Linked DNA regions of Homo sapiens: region 2 is linked to region 1. Evidence: fine-mapped expression QTL. A gene starts in region 1. The other region holds a variant in brackets. All regions are shown on one strand. Distances are from middle to middle.

Region 1 (5,373 bases):
GGATCATCTGAGGTGAGGAGTTCAAGACCAGCCTGGCCAATATGGTGAAACCCTGTCTCTACTAAAAATACAAAAATTAGGCCAGGCGCGGTGGCTCACGCCTGTAATCCCAGCACTTTCGGAGGACAAGGCAGGTGGATCACGAGGTCAGGAGATTGAGACCATCCTGGCTAACACGGTGAAACCCCATCTCTGATAAAAATACAAAAAATTAGCTGGGCATGGTGGTGGGTGCCTGTAGTCCTAGCTACTCAGGAGGCTGAGGCAGGAGAATGGCGTGAGCCTGGGAGGCGGAGCTTACAGTGAGCCAAAATCGCACCACTGCACTCCAACCTGGGCAACAGGGCGAGACTCCATCTCAAAAAAAAAAAAAAAAAAAAAAAATTAGGTGGGCATGATGGCGGGAGCCTGTAATCCCAGCTACTCTGGAGGCTGAGGCAGGAGAATCACCTGATGCCAGGAGGTGGAAGTTGCAGTGAGCCAAGATCGCGCCACTGTACTCCGACCTGGGTGACAGAGCAATACTCTGTCTCAACAAAAAAGGAAAAAAAAGAAACAGTATGTCTGAGCAGCAATTACTGAATTATATTTCTTTTCCACTTAATTCCTTGGTATGACAGGCTTAATGGAGACTAATTATCTTCTACTGAAAATATTTGTGATCTCTTGGTTATAAGGAGACTATTTTCCTTCTGGAAGTTAGAGATGTAATATTTAAAGAAAAATTAATTTCAAAATTGAGTGTTCCAGATGGCAGGAAAACAACTGTGAACTTCACTGTTTGTCAAGCTCAAATATACCCTGTGATATTTTCTCTTCCAAGTTTATACTCGTCTCTTTGCTATTGTAATTTATTTGGATTACAAGATTCTCAGGCTTTCAGATTCCACTTTGCATATTTGTCTCATACTTTAATATCTTTTCCAATTGTCACATTCGTTTTAAGAGTTTCAGTTAATAGTGAATTATTAATTTTTACTAAAGAGATAATTTTATAAGTATTACTTTAGTTTCTACCTTCAAATATTTCATTACCTGTTACACTTTGTGCCCAGTAGTTTAATGCACACTATATCATAAAATAATGTTGGTTCTAGGTACCACTGTATTTTGTTCCTGGCATAAAAGAAAAAAGGTTTTCTGTTGCCTCTTATTGAACCTTTTTGCATTCAAGAGATCCAACTTAGGCTGGGTGCAGTGGCTCACACCTATAATCCCAGCACTTTGGGAGGCCGAGGTGGGTGGATCACTTGAGGGCAGGAGTTCAAGACCAGCCTGGCCAACATGATGAAACCCTGTCTCTACTAAAAATACAAAATATTAGCCGGGCTTGGTGGCAGCTGCCTGTAATCCCAGCTACTCGGGAGGCTGAGGCAGGAGAACTGGTTGAACCTGGGAGACGGAGGTTGCAGCGACCTGAGATGGGGCCACTGCACTCCAGCCTGGGCGACAGAGTGAGACTGTCTCAAAAAAAACCGAAACAAAAAAAAAACAAAAAGGAGATCCAATTTACAAAATAAAAAATTTAAAAACAAGAGAATTAAAAATGTAAACAATAAATAGGAGATATGGCAACATTTTATCTGCCCTGCTGTGGTGACAATTAGCAGAACGCAAGCTAAGGTTTGCAGCCTGGAGCTGGCTTTGTCCCTTACCTTGCCATTGAGAACGATGTTCTGGCTTCCACACAACACTGACTGGCGACTGACTTTGTTCCCAGATGCCTAAAAGAAAACAACGGAAAACCGGGGAAAGCAAACTTAATAGGTTTCTGGACTACAGGTTTCCATCAAGAAAGCTCCCATTTGAGAGAAAAAAACATAAAGTGGGGTGCTGTCCACAATGGAGTGAGTCCAGGATATCAAAAAAGCAATGATGGATTAGGAAACTATGGCTGAGTATGGTGGCTCATGCCTGTAATCTCAGCACTTTGAGAGGCTGAGGCAGACGGATCCCTTGAGGACAGGAGCTCAAGACCAGCCTAGGCAACATAGTGAGACCCCTTCTCAACAAAAAAAAAATTTTTTAATTAGCCGGGCATGGTGGCGCGTGTCTGTAGTCCCAGCTCCTCAGAAGGCTGAGGCTAGAGGATCGCTTGAGCCTGGAAGGCCGAGGCTGCAATGAGCTGTGATTGTGCCACTGCACTCCAGCCTGGGCAACAGAGTGAGAACCTGTCTCAAAAAATAAAAACACAAAGGAAACTAGGGACTCAAGGAATAAACTCATAATTTGAATGTCTATAGCTTGGTGGCATCAGACAGACGCGGATTCAAATCCCACTTCCACGCGTGGGCTTTACGGCCTTAAAACGAGGATAATGACTATGAGTATCAGAGTTGTGAGAAAGCAAAGAAAACCAAAATAACGATAGTAACGTTAATTGACCACTTGCCCTGTTTCCAAGATTTTACAAACATATCATGTACTGATCATAAAGAACCAAATCGGCAGGGTGCGGTGGCTCACGCCTGTAATGCCAGCACTTTGGGAGGCCGAGGCGGGTCGATCACCTGAGGTCAAGAGTTAGGGACCTGCCTGGCCAACACGGTGAAACCCCGTCTCTACCAAAAAATACAAAAATTAGCCGGGCGTGGTGGCGGGCGCCTGTAATCCCAGCTACTCGAGACGCTGAGGCAGGAGAATCGCTTGAACCCGGGAGGCGGAGGTTGCAGTGAGCAGAGATCGCGCCGCGGCCCTCAGGACTGGGCGACAGAGTCTCCGCCCCCCAACCCCCTTCCTCAAAAAAAAAGAACCGAATCGTTTTTAGCGCAAGTTAACAGATACAAAAGGCAGTGTAAAAGGGCCCGAAGTCCGAGCTGTAATTCGTATGAACAGGATGGGACTTGTCCTATCCTCCCGAAGGCACTTTACCCCTATGAGAAAATCAGGAATAAATACAAAAGGCCTCAACTGGCCAAGCGCGGAGTAAACAGCAAAGCCAGACGGTACACGGGGCATCGCTAGATAATCCGGGACTAATGGCCAAAGGGACAGGGGTTGGTGGGGTAGGGGCAGGTTGGGAACGCCGACCAGGCCTCAAAGGGACGCAGGGTTGGAAAGAGGAGGATACATATCTGGACCCGCGCACCGTCTCGATGTACTCAGACTTGTTGTAGAGCAGCTCGCCCAACTCCATGGCCGCCGCCTCCTTCCCTCAGCCCCGGATCCTGTCAGAGTCAGTCGGTCAGTCTTTCAGAGATTCCGGCTACTTCCGGCCGCTCCTCCACTTCCGCTCCAGGTGGCCCACTGGGACTCATCGACAGCGCGGCTCTCCTTTAGGCGGCCTCGCTCCACTGCTCGGCCGTCTACGGCTGCGCGTGCGCAGGCCGAATGGTGGATTTAATTGGCCGGAGTTTAGGGCGCGCTTGGCCCGCGTGGGTCAGCTGATCGCGCACTGAGGGTGCGATCCCGGGCTCCCCATTCCTTCCTGGGGCGCCTCCCCGGCCCAGGGCCAACTGGGTCCCGGTGTCGGCAGGCCTGGGGTCGGCGACGGCTGCTCTTTTCGTTCTGTCGCCTGCCCGATGGACGAGCCTCCCGGGAAGCCCCTCAGCTGTGAGGAGAAGGAAAAGGTGCCGGGGGTGCGGGAAGGGCGGACGCAGGACTCTGACCCCGCTTTCCCAGGGTTTTAGGCCTGGCTTTGTGTCCTCGGCAGTCCGAGGGCAGCAGTATCATCTGACCACCCCCTCCTCTTAGGGCTGAGGGGGCACAGAAAATGAAAATGTGGAAATAGCGTGGTGCTCACGTGGTGGCGTTTAAAGAACAAATTTCATTACAGTAGCAGCGCATTAATACAATGTGTAACAGTTTGTAGATAAAGCTGTATCGACACCCTTGCTCCTCCCCCCTCCCACACCCTCAATCTTTACTTCTCCCCCCGGACGGCCTCAAGTAAATCTTTTAAGTCTGGTACTTCCAGGTCCTTTCGTGTGTTAATGTGGGTGGTGGAGGAGGGGCGTATCCCTAACCACCAAAAAGGAATCCTATGTATATTTTTTGGAGAAGGGAATGTTCATAAATGGTATGATCTGAATGGTTCTGCAGGTTCCGTTTAGCTTTCCTGTCAGGACATGTTTATCTACCTTGCTTTCTTTTTTAAGTTCTAGACAGTATGTTGTAGTTTGGAAGTGCCCTCGTTTTGTTTCTTTTTTCTTCCTTTTCTGTTTTTCTTCTTTTTTGAGACAGAGTCTCACTCTGCCACCCATGCTGGGGTGCAGTGGCGCGATCTCGGCTCACTGCAACCTCCGCTTCCTGGGATCAAGCGACTCTCCTGCCTCAGCCTCCCGAGTAGCTGGGATTACACGAACCCGCCACTGCACCTGGCCTTGGAAGTGCCCTTGCTTCTTTAGACTGTACTTTACTGATAGACTTTTAGGATGTTTCCAGCTTGTGCTGATGTTATTCTTATCCTGGCTTACCTTCTGGTGGAGGTGAGAAAGATCATTTATAAGTAAACAAGATAATCCCCAGACATTGATAAGATTGGTGGGAGGCCAGTCTCCCTGGCTCACGCCTGTAATCCCCGCACTTTGGGAGGCCGAGATGGGCAGATCGCTTGAGCTCAGAGTTTGAGACCAGCCTAGGCAACGTAGTGAAACCCCGTCTCTACTAAAAATACAAAAATTAGCCGGGTGTGGTGACGCCAGCCTGTAGTCCCAGAGGCTCAGGCCTCAGAGGCTGATGCACGAGAATCGCTTGAACCAGGGGACGCTGAGGTTGCAGGGAGCTGCCGAGATCGCGCCACTGCACGCCAGGCTGGACGACAGAGTGAGACTGTCTCTCAAAAAAAAAGAAAATTCCTTACGGTTGGCAACTTGTCTAGTAGCATGTTTTGCACATAGGTTTTGTTTTGTTTGTTTTTGAGACAGACTCTCCGCTCTATCTCCCAGGCTGGAGTGCAGTGGCTCGATCTTGGCTCACTGCAACCTCCGCCTCTCAGGTTCAAGCGATTCTCCTGCCTCAGCCTCCCGAGTAGTTGGGATTACAGACGCCCAACACCACGCCGGGCTAATTTTTGTATTTTTAGTAGAGACAGGGTTTCTCCATGTTGGCCAGGCTGGTTTTGAACTCCTGACCTCAGGTAATCTGCCCGCCTTGGCCTTCCAAAGTGCTGGGATTACAGGTGTGAGCCACTGCACCCGGCCTTTTTTTTTTTTTTTTTTTTCAAGCAGAGTCTCGCTCTGTTGCCCAGGCTGGAGTGCAGTGGCGTGATCTAGGCCCACTGCAACCTCCGCCTCCGGGTTCAAGCAATTCTCCTGCTTCAGCCTCCTACAGGCACCCACCACCACACCCGGCTCATTTTTGTATCTTTAGTAGAAGCAGGATTTCACCATGTTGGCCAGGCGGGTCTCGAACTCTTGACCTCAAATGATCCAC
Region 2 (5,373 bases), 120 kb before region 1:
TCCATCTGTCACTAGTTGAGAGCTACTCCTAATGTCATTAAATCCTGGCACTTCCACCCTGCCCTTTATACAGGCTGAATATGTGCAAAGCCCTGGAGCAAGGCATCACAGTGCTTGCAAAAAGAAGCCACTAGCATGTAAGGCTGGGTGCAGTGGCCCATGCCTATAATCCCAGCACTTTGGGAGGCCGAGGTGGGTGAATCACTTGAGTCTAGGAGTTCAAGACTAGCCTGGGCAACATGGTGAAACCCCACCTCTTTTTAAAAAAAAAATTAGCTAGGCATGGTGGCATGTGCCTGTAGTCCAAGCTACTCAAGAGGCTGAGGTGGGAGCATTGCTTGAGCCCGAGAGGCAGAGGTTGCAGTGAGCCAAGACTGCCACTGCACTCCAGCCTGGGTGACAAAGCTAGACCCTGTCTCAAAAAAAAAAAAAAAAAAAAAGGAAAGAAAGATAAGAAAAGAAAGAAAGAAAAAGAAAGAAAGAAAGAAAGAAAGAAAGAAAGAAAGAAAGAAGGGAGAAAAAAGGAAAGAAACCATTGGCATGCAAAGTAATGGGAAATGTCTAGCAGGTAGTGTGCAGATAAATGTTTAACAACTGGCTTTCCAGGAGGAAAAAGCCTTAACCTGTTGCAGTTACCAATGTCTGTGGTGTAAATATTCCTGCTATAGCCAGTTTCAAGCTGCTAACATATCATTGAAAGCAGAGTTGAGATGTTATGAGCACAACTGGTTCTCATGTGTTGATGATACAAGACAACCAAAGACCAGCTCTGGGAGGGAGAAAAACAGCAGGGCAATTACAGTGTCTCCCACAGGTGCAACCAGAGAGCTCTGCTGCAGACATAGAGTCTCATAGTTTTATGGGACTTCCTGCTCCATTCCATCTTATATCAATGTTTGAACATCTTACCATGAAAACAAGCTTACTCTTAGAATCTTCGAATGCATTCACACTCTAGGAAGGTATATATTGTTTATTATTTTTACATCGTCTCTTCCCTACTGCATCAAGCCCCATCATCCTAGCATGCACCCAGGAAATCAGCAAAAACCCATTTAAGAGTCCAGACTTCAAGGGTCCCTCACAGTAATGGGCATCTCTTGTTTTGCCCGAGCAGAGCAGACCACTCGTTTCCCCTTATTCTGCTAATTGTATTTCATTTTCCTTTAAGCAACCACCTTTCACCCCATCCTGAATCCTCAGACCTTATTTCCCTGGCTCTAGGAATTAGCACATGACACAGGCCTGGCCACTCAGAGTGTTTCATTCCCCTAGAAGTAGAGATGAGACCCCAAACGGGTCAATGACACTCTCCACTTGGAATTATTGGAATAAGTAAATCTCTTCCCACTGGGTTACTGGGTTAGCAGGATAGAAGCCTGGAGCTGATGGTGGTCATCTCCATCACTAGGAAAGAGCCTTCCTGAAAATCAGGCTTACAGACAGAAAAAGCTGAGCTGGGAGATGGAGAATAACTGGAGCCTGATGACATCATTTGTGCCCTTGGATCCAGCTGTGCCTAAAGGCAGATACTTCTGGACTTTTTAATTACCTGAATTCATAAAATTTCTTTCTGACTTAAGTCACTTTGAGTTGGGTTTTCAGTGATTTGCAACTAAAATATTGCTGGCTGATTCACAGCTCTGAGACCAAATGAGATAGACCTGGTGTGGGGTCTGTGGTCTGTTAGGAACCGGGCTGCACAGCACAAGGTGAGCGGCAGGCGAGCTGAAGCTTCATCTATATTTACAGCCACTCCCCATTGCTTGCATTACCGCCTGAGCTCTGCCTCCTGTCAGATCAGCAGTGGCATTAGATTATCATAGGAGCCCAAATCCTACTGTGAACTGCACACCAAAGGATCTAGATTGTGCACTCCTTATGAGAATCTAATGCCTGATGATCTGTCACTGTCTCCCATCACTCCCATATGGGACCGTCTAATTGCAGGAAAACAAGCTCAGGGCTCCTGCTGATTCTACATTATGGTGAGTTGTATAATTATTTCATTATATATTACAATGTAATCATAATAGAAATAAAGTGCACAATAAATGTAATGCACTTGAATCATCCCAAAACCATCCCCTGTCACCCATCCGTGGAAAAACTGTCCCTGATGCCAAAAAGGTTGGGGACTGCTGAGCTAGACTTTAGTACACATCCTTCCAGCTTTCTTCTCTTGGCCCTAAATAGAGTTAGAAACGAAAATACAGTTTATTGTCGCCCTGCGTCCATGCGTCCATGGGGGCTTTGGATGAATTCCAAGGAGATACTGGTTGCAGGAGCAAGCCCAAGGCACAAACGGAGTCACTTCAGGATCCGGATGCTCATTTTTTGCTCAACGTCCATCTTCTCTAAGGACTGAGGGAAAAACAAATGGCAGGCAAGAGGCTTGACTCTCAGCTCTCCATGCTCCCAACCTCCTCCCCCAGGGTTCTACCCATTCCAGAGACCCCATCATTCCCAGGCAACCCCTATCTTTCCGCCCTCCTCCGTTGAACGTTTCCCAAG[T/A]CTGTCTGCCCCAGAACTCCTGATCTCAACTCCCCAATCCCCAAGGGCACTCTGACCTTGGTGAACTCCACGAAGGACACAGCCCCATCCCCATCTTCATCAGCCTCCTGCACCGTGCGGTCAGCGATGTTCTCCAGCTGCTCTTCTGTCACCTGTACCCCAACCATCAGACGGAGAACCTGAGAGATGAGTGAAGAGGCAGCCATAAGGAGGGGGCACGAAGGCTGCAACTCCCCATCTCCTAAACCTTGCCCACCTCATCCCAAAAGTTATTGCTAATTTTATAATCCATCCTTCATCCATTTTTCACCATATCCCCCAATAATTTTCCCTACTGCTTCAACAACCAATCTCCTATCTCTCCCTCACCATCCTGCACTACCCTCAAAATATGCTCAAACTCATTACCCAACTTTATCACCCAACCTCCATCCATCCTCCACACCATTCTCCACCTTAGCCACTAAGGGTTTCTAATTCCATCCTCATTCCATCACATCTGTTCCAGAGTTTCTCAATCTTGGCACTGTTGACATTTGGAGCCAGGTAACTCCTTGTTGGAAGAGGCTCTCCTGGGTATTGCATGATATATAGCCACATTCCTGACCTCTACCCACTAGATGCCAGTAGCACACTCTCTCCCCCATTGTGACAACAAAAAGCATCTCCAGATATTGCCAGATATTCACTCAGGGAGCAAAATCACCCCCAGTTGAGAATCACTGATCTATTCCCAACCTCATAGTCAACTGCTCCCCACTCCGACTCCCAACAAACCCACACTCTAACTGCACCCATTCCCATTTCCCAACCAATACCCCAATTATCTGCGCCCCAGTTCCCCAATCATCCCACCCCATCTCTCACACCATTGCATTTAACCATCCCATCCTTCACACATCACATCTCTTGCTCTCGCTTTCTGCCAACCTGCAGCATCTCATGCCTGGAGATCTTCCCATCGCGATCCAGGTCATAGAGCTGAAATGCATCTGGGGAGAGGGTGGGAGGGGGAAAGGAAGGTAGGTCTTCCCTGGCTCTCTTCCAGCAGCCACCTTCCTTCCCCCCACCTTGGAGGAGGGGGGAGGTTGTCAATGCCCTCAGGAAGGGAGTGGGAGATCCCTGGAGCCTGTCCCTGGTGTGGGTACATCTGCATTCTCACTTGTGCAGGTCCTCACAAACTCACAGTGAAGTTTGTTCCTTCTGCTGTTGAGAGGTTCAGGTTTCTTGGGGTCTTGGGTTTCTGTGTCCTCATCTTCTACAGGGCGAAAATGAGCCAAGACCCTGACAAAGCCTGGGAAATCCACTCGCTGGCTCCTGGGGAGACGGGACAGAATGGAAAGAGGTGGTGGTCACCTTGGCCATCACTTTGCCTCCGTCTCTAACCTCCCCTCCCACCCACTCACACACCGGTTTTCCCGCCTTCACCTCCCCACGCCCAGCAAGCCTCACCCATCGGGGAAGAAGCTTTCTATAATTCGGTCTCCCAGGGGGTTCACGGCGAGCGCCCCTATCTGCTGGAGATCCATGCGGCTGCAAAGCCAAATTTCAAAGAGGGTAAGGCAGAGATGCCAGACGGAGGGTCAAAGAGGGACATGGAGTCAGAGAGACAGAGGCCAGAAGTTATGAGGCCGGCTCCCCCTCACCTCAGGTAGCCCTTCTTATTCCTGTCCAGTGCCCGGAACCGGTGGTGCAGGCGGAGCAGGCTGGCTTGGGAGACTGCGGGAAGGAGAGTGGGGTGGGGGTGTGTGACTCTGCAGGGCCAGCTCCAGAAACCCGCCCCAACAGGCCAGGAAGATGGGCCAGAACAGCGGGGGCTGGCTGGAAGGGGCGATCATCCCGGGGAATCAGGGGTTGAGCTGGCCGGGGCGGAGGGAGAGTGACACGACCCCGCGAAGATCCAGGTTCAAGACCCGGGCGGCTCGCAACCTCCCGAAAACCAAAGAACCAAAGCCATCCCTTCCAACCGCCGTCAGCTCTGCCTTCAGCTTCGAGCCGGGCTGGAGGACACCTGGGTGCCTGGATTCCTCTGGACTCCGACCCCGTGAACCCGGATCCTCCCCAGACTTGGAGGCTGGGACCCCTAGGTTAACCCGCCCCTAACCCAGCGATCCCAGGCACAGGGGCCTTGGTCTTCCAGCTCCGGGGAGCCCCGGACCCCAGACTTGTAAGTTCGTCCATCCTTCAACCCAACCCCTTCCCTAGCCCCAGACGCCTGGGTTCGCCCCGTCCCCTCCGCAGCCGCCGACGCGGGCGCACTCACAGCCGGTCTCTCGCCGAATACTGTCCCCGTCGGGAATGACCGCGGCGTGGGAGCTGCGCGACCCCATGGCCGAGCTGGAGGCGGAAGGGCCGGAGCAGCCACCCGGACCCACGCGTTCTCTCCTCCCGCCGGAGAGGCGTGGCCGCCCCAGTGGCCCCAGGGGGACGAAGGCCACAAGCCTGGCGCGCGGCCAAGCTCCAGAACCCCGGCGTGCCTCTCCTCCCACCCGCGACCCGGGCGAATGGAAAACAATGTGCAGGGTGGCGGGTCAGAGGGAGGCTGCGAACAACGGGCTGTTTCAGCTCCGAGATTTTGCGATCCGCACGGGAGAGGCTGGTCGAGTCCCAGGCCCCGCGTTTCCACGCCTCCCCCGGGGCCGGTTCCCACGGTGCGCCCTGACACCTGAGCCACCTCCTCCTTCGCGGGCCCCGGGCGCTCCCAACCCCAGGGCGCTCCCCGGCGTCGACGCTGAGGAAGCCTGGGAGACCTGACCTCCTCTGTAGAGACCACGCCCTGCTGGAAGGCGGGTGGCCTATGGGGAGGGAATCCTGGGGGGAGGGGGGAAGAGGCATCGAAGAACTCCCAAAGACGGGGAA

The links. PIP is the estimated chance that this variant, and not a neighbour inherited with it, causes the effect.
Region 2: its variant is the best candidate, but not a certain one, in a credible set for the expression of DCTN5 in whole blood (INTERVAL, PIP 0.84).

What each region holds. Positions count from the first base shown.
Region 1 is chr16:23,639,306-23,644,678 of GRCh38, reverse strand. It overlaps DCTN5 (dynactin subunit 5), which reads right to left and starts at 3,213. Exons shown (of 6, transcript NM_032486.4): 1 at 3,089-3,213; 2 at 1,656-1,724. The coding sequence starts at 3,136. It overlaps PALB2 (partner and localizer of BRCA2), which reads left to right and starts at 3,369. Exons shown (of 13, transcript NM_024675.4): 1 at 3,369-3,569. The coding sequence starts at 3,522. RefSeq lists an enhancer at 2,151-2,940 and a silencer at 4,068-4,302.
Region 2 is chr16:23,754,521-23,759,893 of GRCh38, reverse strand. CHP2 (calcineurin like EF-hand protein 2) reads right to left here and starts at 4,868. Exons shown (of 7, transcript NM_022097.4): 1 at 4,778-4,868; 2 at 4,161-4,233; 3 at 3,967-4,047; 4 at 3,701-3,831; 5 at 3,445-3,506; 6 at 2,571-2,693; 7 at 959-2,364. The coding sequence starts at 4,844. The coding sequence ends at 2,311. RefSeq lists an enhancer at 4,335-4,980. The variant T/A (reference allele first, on the strand shown) is at 2,515.